2 linked regions of the Homo sapiens genome follow. The protein of the gene in region 1 interacts with the protein of each later gene in a biochemical or structural test. Each region holds a gene or a part of one and is shown in the gene's direction. Other genes may lie near its edges.

What was found. The genes of interacting proteins can lie anywhere in the genome.
Region 2: the proteins of WSB1 (region 1) and HIPK2 form a complex in vitro, tested with the Homo sapiens proteins (one study listed by BioGRID).

What each region holds. Positions count from the first base shown.
Region 1 is NC_000017.11:27,307,614-27,311,113, forward strand, and holds part of WSB1 (WD repeat and SOCS box-containing protein 1), read left to right. Parts: intron 1-130; exon of another isoform or gene 131-1,486; coding exon 1,487-1,659; intron 1,660-2,447; coding exon 2,448-2,561; intron 2,562-3,500. UniProt on the Homo sapiens protein: Probable substrate-recognition component of a SCF-like ECS (Elongin-Cullin-SOCS-box protein) E3 ubiquitin ligase complex which mediates the ubiquitination and subsequent proteasomal degradation of target proteins.
Region 2 is NC_000007.14:139,715,499-139,718,998, reverse strand, and holds part of HIPK2 (homeodomain-interacting protein kinase 2), read left to right. Parts: exon of another isoform or gene 1-106; coding exon of another isoform or gene 107-149; intron 150-1,983; coding exon 1,984-3,067; intron 3,068-3,500.

The sequences.
Region 1 (3,500 bases):
AAATGTTGGAAGTTTAAAGCAAGATACTCAGTTTAGTTCTTTACAAATCATAAGAAGAACAAAATTAGATGTTGACATTGCTATTTTAGGCTGTGTGTTTTCCATATGCTTCTTGCTTTCCCTGTCACAGGTGGTGGCAGCAATATTGGTGTGATTGAGGTTATGCTGGCACCACTCGCACACAGGCGCACAATGGTGTTAGCTGGGCAGAAAGAGTGGCATCTCTGGCTACCGGGCTGGGGGCGACCTTTACCATAGGATGAAGTAACCTTGCATTCGGCTGCAAGGTGTACTGTACGTACACAGGTGCTGGTCGATGTCCACTTTCTGCTTTTCTTTCTTTCTTTTTTTCTTTTTTAAAGTAATTTCCCCCACAGTAAAATACACTGACTCCTGAGTAAATTGATTTTCCAGTTTTATGGAATTGGGAGTCTGACAAGTGAAACCAATTTAATGTAAAGTATTTGGCTTTCAAATGGTTTCTCTGTGCTATTTTTTGGAATTCTTTCAGATTCCAGAGATATCTTACGTCTTTGATTCAATTTAAAATTTGTACTTATTTTCTTTTAGAAATAATGTATTGTGTCTGTGCAGAAAAAAAAAAAACCAAAAAGGATTGCTTTACTCCAAGAGGAGAGATTGTCTTAGGATAAACCTCCAAGCTCACATTTAATATAACAGACTGAAGTAAACATTAGAATCCTGTTTAGAGCTATTCTGCACAGTTAACTACTGATCTTTAGAATCTAAAATTGTATATGAACTTATTCTTAAATAATTGAACCGTTTTATATTCAAATGACTTATGATCGTGGTTAGTTTGGGAAAAATAAGATGGTTAAATTTTGATTTATTGAAATGTAATTGTATTATTTTCATAAAATAGCATTTTCATTTTGTAATGTGGTTTAACATCCTTGTTGTTTGCCAAAGAAATTTCATTTGGCTGTGAATATTCTATTTGCTTGCAGTATCTGTTTCTCTTCCTAGGCTCAAGTTGGTGACCCAAGCCTATTGTAAACAAGTGATTATCTCAAAGGGAGATGCCAATGGAGTAACAATTTGTTAACCTTACGTTTTCTGTCTGTATATTTTTTTAAAAATCTGGTAGTTTCTGGAAAAAAAAGAGAAGGGGGTTTGTAGTACTTAACCCTATTTATTTCCGTATATTTTAGTTAATTAGTTTTTGGAATAAATGGATTTCAGTATAGCTTTGTGGTTAAATTGCATTGCCTTTATTTTATGTTTAGGCTTATTTTTAAATTAACATTTAACAGAAACATTTGAAATAGAATTTGCATGTCTGCCTTAATTAACTTAAAGACTGATTTTAATCTGACTATGACACTGAGCATATTCTTTAAATTACTCATAATTTATAATGCTTAATATAATCTTAATTAAATTTAGCAGTTTTAGTATAAGATGTGCCATTTTGTCCTCTGTATGTCTGAATGAAGCTATAACATTTGCCTTTTTATTGCAGGTTTTCCTTTGGAATATGGATAAATACACCATGATACGGAAACTAGAAGGACATCACCATGATGTGGTAGCTTGTGACTTTTCTCCTGATGGAGCATTACTGGCTACTGCATCTTATGATACTCGAGTATATATCTGGGATCCACATAATGGAGACATTCTGATGGAATTTGGGTGGGTACAGCATGAATTATTTTAGTCTATAATTCATCTCCACCTATCAAGTTATGTGAATAATTACAATCACCAATATATGCAACCTAAAATTACAGTCTATTCTAATTTAAAATGTTGGTATTATTTAAGCCCTTGACTAATGGAAAGCCTTCGATATAAATTCTAAAAGTAAATTTGGCTCTCTTGATACAAGTCTTGCTACTTAACAGTACCCAGCTCTCTATAGAAGTACTAATTATGTTTAGAGTTTTTGTTGGAGAAAAACAGTTAAAACCAAAGTTGGACTTAATCTTACTGTCTTAAATCATAAAAGATTTTTTTTTTTTTTGACAGAGTCTTGCTCTGTCGCCAGGCTGGAGTGCAGTGGCGCAATCTCAGCTCACTGCAACCTCCACCTCCTGGGTTCAAGCAGTTCTCCTGCCTCAGCCTCCTGAGTAGCTGGGCTTACAGGCACCTGCAACCACCCCTGGCTAATTTTTGTATTTTTAGTAGAGATGGGGTTTCACCATGTTGGTCAGGCTGGTCTCAATCTCTTGATCTCGTGATCCACCTGCCTTAACCTCCCAAAGTGCTGGGATTACAGGCATGAGCCACTGCGCCCGACCATAAAAGATTAGTTCTTTTCAGGTGACTTTAATTTGGATGTATCATCTCTACTGAGTCTTCTCAGTTATATTAATTAAGGCTACTTTAAACACTATTCAAAGACAGATGTACTTTGTACCTGGGTAATTTTGTTTTCTTGAAGTGACTGATATCCACTGAAAACATATATTTGACCTCAGGCACCTGTTTCCCCCACCTACTCCAATATTTGCTGGAGGAGCAAATGACCGGTGGGTACGATCTGTATCTTTTAGCCATGATGGACTGCATGTTGCAAGCCTTGCTGATGATAAGTAAGTATGTGCATTATAGCTTGACTGACTTACTATTACCTTTTACATTCTTAAGCCTTAAAGCCTTTCTGCAGTTAAGAGTTTTAATGTCTCTTCCTCAACACAAGCCCCTGGGAGATTTTGTTGTGTCTTAAAGAATATCGGCCTGAACAATTATCTGTGTAAACTAAAGATAATGCATGCCTCTCCCTGTGTTCCTTGTTTAACTTGTTTAGGCATAGTGGGTTGATTTTTAGTCAGCTTTTAGCCCAGCTTACAGAGATTTTTTAAAGTAATGTCTTAACAAAGGTTGAAGCAGAAGGAAATTTCTAAAGTGAAACAAATAGTAAAACCAAAAGAATTACAAATAAATAGTAATTTGTATCCACCATGATTGAGATTAGAATATGAAATGTCACATGAATGATATGTGCTGCTTGTTGGTAAGAAGCAGAAACTAGTTGCAACCATCTGTGTTCATGCATATAGCATTGAGTAGTTCGGTGACGTCAATTCATAAGGCAGCTCTTCTCTTCCCAGAATGTTAGCAAACATATGGAGAGAGGTTTTTTTTGTTTGTTTGTCTGCAACCATTGTTTCCTGTTTGCTCAGATAGATTCTGCATGTTAGTTCTCTGCTGTATTTGTAGACACACTCAGCCTGGGTGAAAAGCTTTTTTTCCTTTCCTGGTTTTTTTTGTTTGTTTATTGGAGACAGGGTCTTGCTTTGTTGCCCAGGCTATAGTGCAGTGGTGCAATCACATCTCACCACAGCCTTGATTTTCTGGGCTCAGGTGATCCTCCCACCTCAGCCTTCCGAGTATCTCACACCACAGGGGTATACCACCACACCTGGCTAGTTTTTTTAAAAAATTTTTTGTAGAGACAGGGTCTCCCTATGTTGCCCAGGCTGGTCTTAAAAGTCCTGGGCTCAAGCAGTCCACCCACCTCGGCCTCCCAA
Region 2 (3,500 bases), on another chromosome or scaffold:
GAAGAACGGGCTGAAACAAGGCCATTGGATTAGGCAATTAGGAAGTCATTTACCTTCAAGAACAGGAGCCTATAGTGCATTAACGAGTTGGGGGAGATGGATTAAGATGTGGGCATTGAAGAAAAGGGAGCATAAACCATTGATCACAGGTGAGAGGAGGGAAAGAATTAAGAGGGGGGAATGCGGCTGTTACTCCTTTTGCCTTCCATGTTGGGAGTTTGTGTGTGCACGCACATGAAGGCAGAAGAAAAAGATGAGGTGACCGATTCATTTGGACAGCCATATTAAGTTCCTACTAAATACTTGGATCCAATTAAGTACAGGGAGAAATGGAAAGCTACAAGAGAAAGAACAGTGGTGGAAGCAGGTTCAAGAGAAAATGGGACAAATATGGATCATGAGAATCGGGAACTTTTTTAGTATTGGAAAAGAGCAACACCTCTTTCTCTCAGACTGGAGAGAAGGAATGAAGGATGGAGGATGATGTAGATTCAGGAATGTTCTGAAATGAAGAAGGAAATAAAGGAGGAAAGTAAGGCTGACCTCAGGCTTCTGGACAAAGTGGAAGTTGGGTCATCTACTGAGAGAGAAGGTGGACTAGGGTGATGGTTGATGGAGTGGAAAGGATTACCACTCTAGGTAATGCCAGGGGCTCAGAGAGACAGGAACACTAGGTTAGCCAACCCCCAACAGGGCTTGCAGAAGCTGCACTTCCTTGTGCTTCTGTGAGAAATGTTTGTTGATAGTGGCTTAGAAGATGGGCAATGTTTGTTACTCTTTTAACCTTTAAGGAGTTATCCTTCATCACCTTATTATTTTTGCTTAATATATTTTCTATGAATTTTTGTTTCAGTATCACCGTAATTTGTACAAGTGTTCCAGAATAACGGTCTCATAGGTTTCTAAGTTTATCTAAATTGTGGATGAGATGTTGGTATGAAATAATAGTACTTCTGGCCAGACACGGTGGCTCACGTCTGTAATCCCAGCACTTTGGGAGGCTGAGGCGGGTGGATCACCTGAGGTCAGGAGTTTGAGACCAGGCTGGCCAACATGGTGAAACCCCATCCCTACTAAAAATTCAAAAATTAGTCGGGCGTGGTGGCAGGAACCTATAATCCCAGCCTTTGGAGGCTGAGGCAGGAGAATGGCTTGAAACCTGGGAGGCAGAGGTGGCAGTGAGCCGAGATCATGCCATTGCACTCCAGCCTGGGTGACAAGAGCGAGACTCGGTCTCAAAACAAAAACAAACAAACAAACAAAAAAAAACAAAAAGAAATAGTACTTTCTAGAGAAATGTATTGATATATGAATTTAGCAGGAAGCGTGAGTGAATGGAGCCATGAATTGTGCTACCCAGTCCCCACCAGTAAGGCTGATAAAATGTTTTATGCTGTTGAAATGAAAAACGTCAGACCAACTGCTGATCCACTAAACCCTACAGAATCGATGACAAAGATGCCAGCTGGTAATTAGGGTTCATCCAGGATCCAGAAGATCCTGAGTGGCCTGGTGATGGGGCCTGTGTGGGAAGATGTTTTCTCAAACCAGTAAACTTGACAGGGTCTGTGGACAAGGCTGAGCTGATGATGTGGGCAACGAAGTACGTGACAGCAGAGCCTCCTGAGTTTCAGTAGAAAGCAACCCAGGGAGAACTGAGGAAGAATCCATTTCTGTCACAAGTAATGTTTACAAAAAAAAATGGTGACCTATGTCCTGATATTGGAATTCTGTTTCTGAGTCTCAGCTGTGTTGCTGGCACCTAATGGTGGCAAGTGGCACCCTGGAACCACTTGGTTCCACAAACTCAGTGACCAGAATGTGCTTCTGGGTGGAAGAGATTCACTTTTTCAACCTTGTTTTCAAGTGGGAGGAATATATTCTGTATGGCCCAAGCCACAGATGAGAACTGAAGGGGATCTGTTGAGTTTACTTGTACCAAGGTGACTCCGATACTTACTTTTCGTTTTCCTTTCCTTGTAGGTATGGCCTCACATGTGCAAGTTTTCTCCCCTCACACCCTTCAATCAAGTGCCTTCTGTAGTGTGAAGAAACTGAAAATAGAGCCGAGTTCCAACTGGGACATGACTGGGTACGGCTCCCACAGCAAAGTGTATAGCCAGAGCAAGAACATCCCCCTGTCGCAGCCAGCCACCACAACCGTCAGCACCTCCTTGCCGGTCCCAAACCCAAGCCTACCTTACGAGCAGACCATCGTCTTCCCAGGAAGCACCGGGCACATCGTGGTCACCTCAGCAAGCAGCACTTCTGTCACCGGGCAAGTCCTCGGCGGACCACACAACCTAATGCGTCGAAGCACTGTGAGCCTCCTTGATACCTACCAAAAATGTGGACTCAAGCGTAAGAGCGAGGAGATCGAGAACACAAGCAGCGTGCAGATCATCGAGGAGCATCCACCCATGATTCAGAATAATGCAAGCGGGGCCACTGTCGCCACTGCCACCACGTCTACTGCCACCTCCAAAAACAGCGGCTCCAACAGCGAGGGCGACTATCAGCTGGTGCAGCATGAGGTGCTGTGCTCCATGACCAACACCTACGAGGTCTTAGAGTTCTTGGGCCGAGGGACGTTTGGGCAAGTGGTCAAGTGCTGGAAACGGGGCACCAATGAGATCGTAGCCATCAAGATCCTGAAGAACCACCCATCCTATGCCCGACAAGGTCAGATTGAAGTGAGCATCCTGGCCCGGTTGAGCACGGAGAGTGCCGATGACTATAACTTCGTCCGGGCCTACGAATGCTTCCAGCACAAGAACCACACGTGCTTGGTCTTCGAGATGTTGGAGCAGAACCTCTATGACTTTCTGAAGCAAAACAAGTTTAGCCCCTTGCCCCTCAAATACATTCGCCCAGTTCTCCAGCAGGTAGCCACAGCCCTGATGAAACTCAAAAGCCTAGGTCTTATCCACGCTGACCTCAAACCAGAAAACATCATGCTGGTGGATCCATCTAGACAACCATACAGAGTCAAGGTCATCGACTTTGGTTCAGCCAGCCACGTCTCCAAGGCTGTGTGCTCCACCTACTTGCAGTCCAGATATTACAGGTAAGACCGTCCACAAGGAGACAGGAGCTGCTGAATGCCCAGTGGCACTCACAGAGAATGTGCCACCTTAGTCACTGTGGGGAGATAAAATTATATGTCTACAGTTCCTGCCTTCAAGTGATCTTAATGTACTTACGAAATTAGGACATGTGCACATTGCGATGTCAATTAGAAGTCACATTAGAACGGAGCCAGGTAAGATCCGTGGCACAGGTGTTCAGCGTTGGAAGGGCTCCCTGGGACCTGGGGTGCAGAGCAGAAGAGTTCCGTCCTCCCGGATGGGTAGGATCCAGACAGGTGGTGGAGAGAGAGGGATGTGCCATCCACAGTCCGCAGTCACACTAGTGGGAATTTACAGGAGACAAGAAGGACACCCGCCTGGCCAGAACAGTTTGTGAGTGGTGGGAGATGTGAGTGAAAGCCTGGTTGGAAC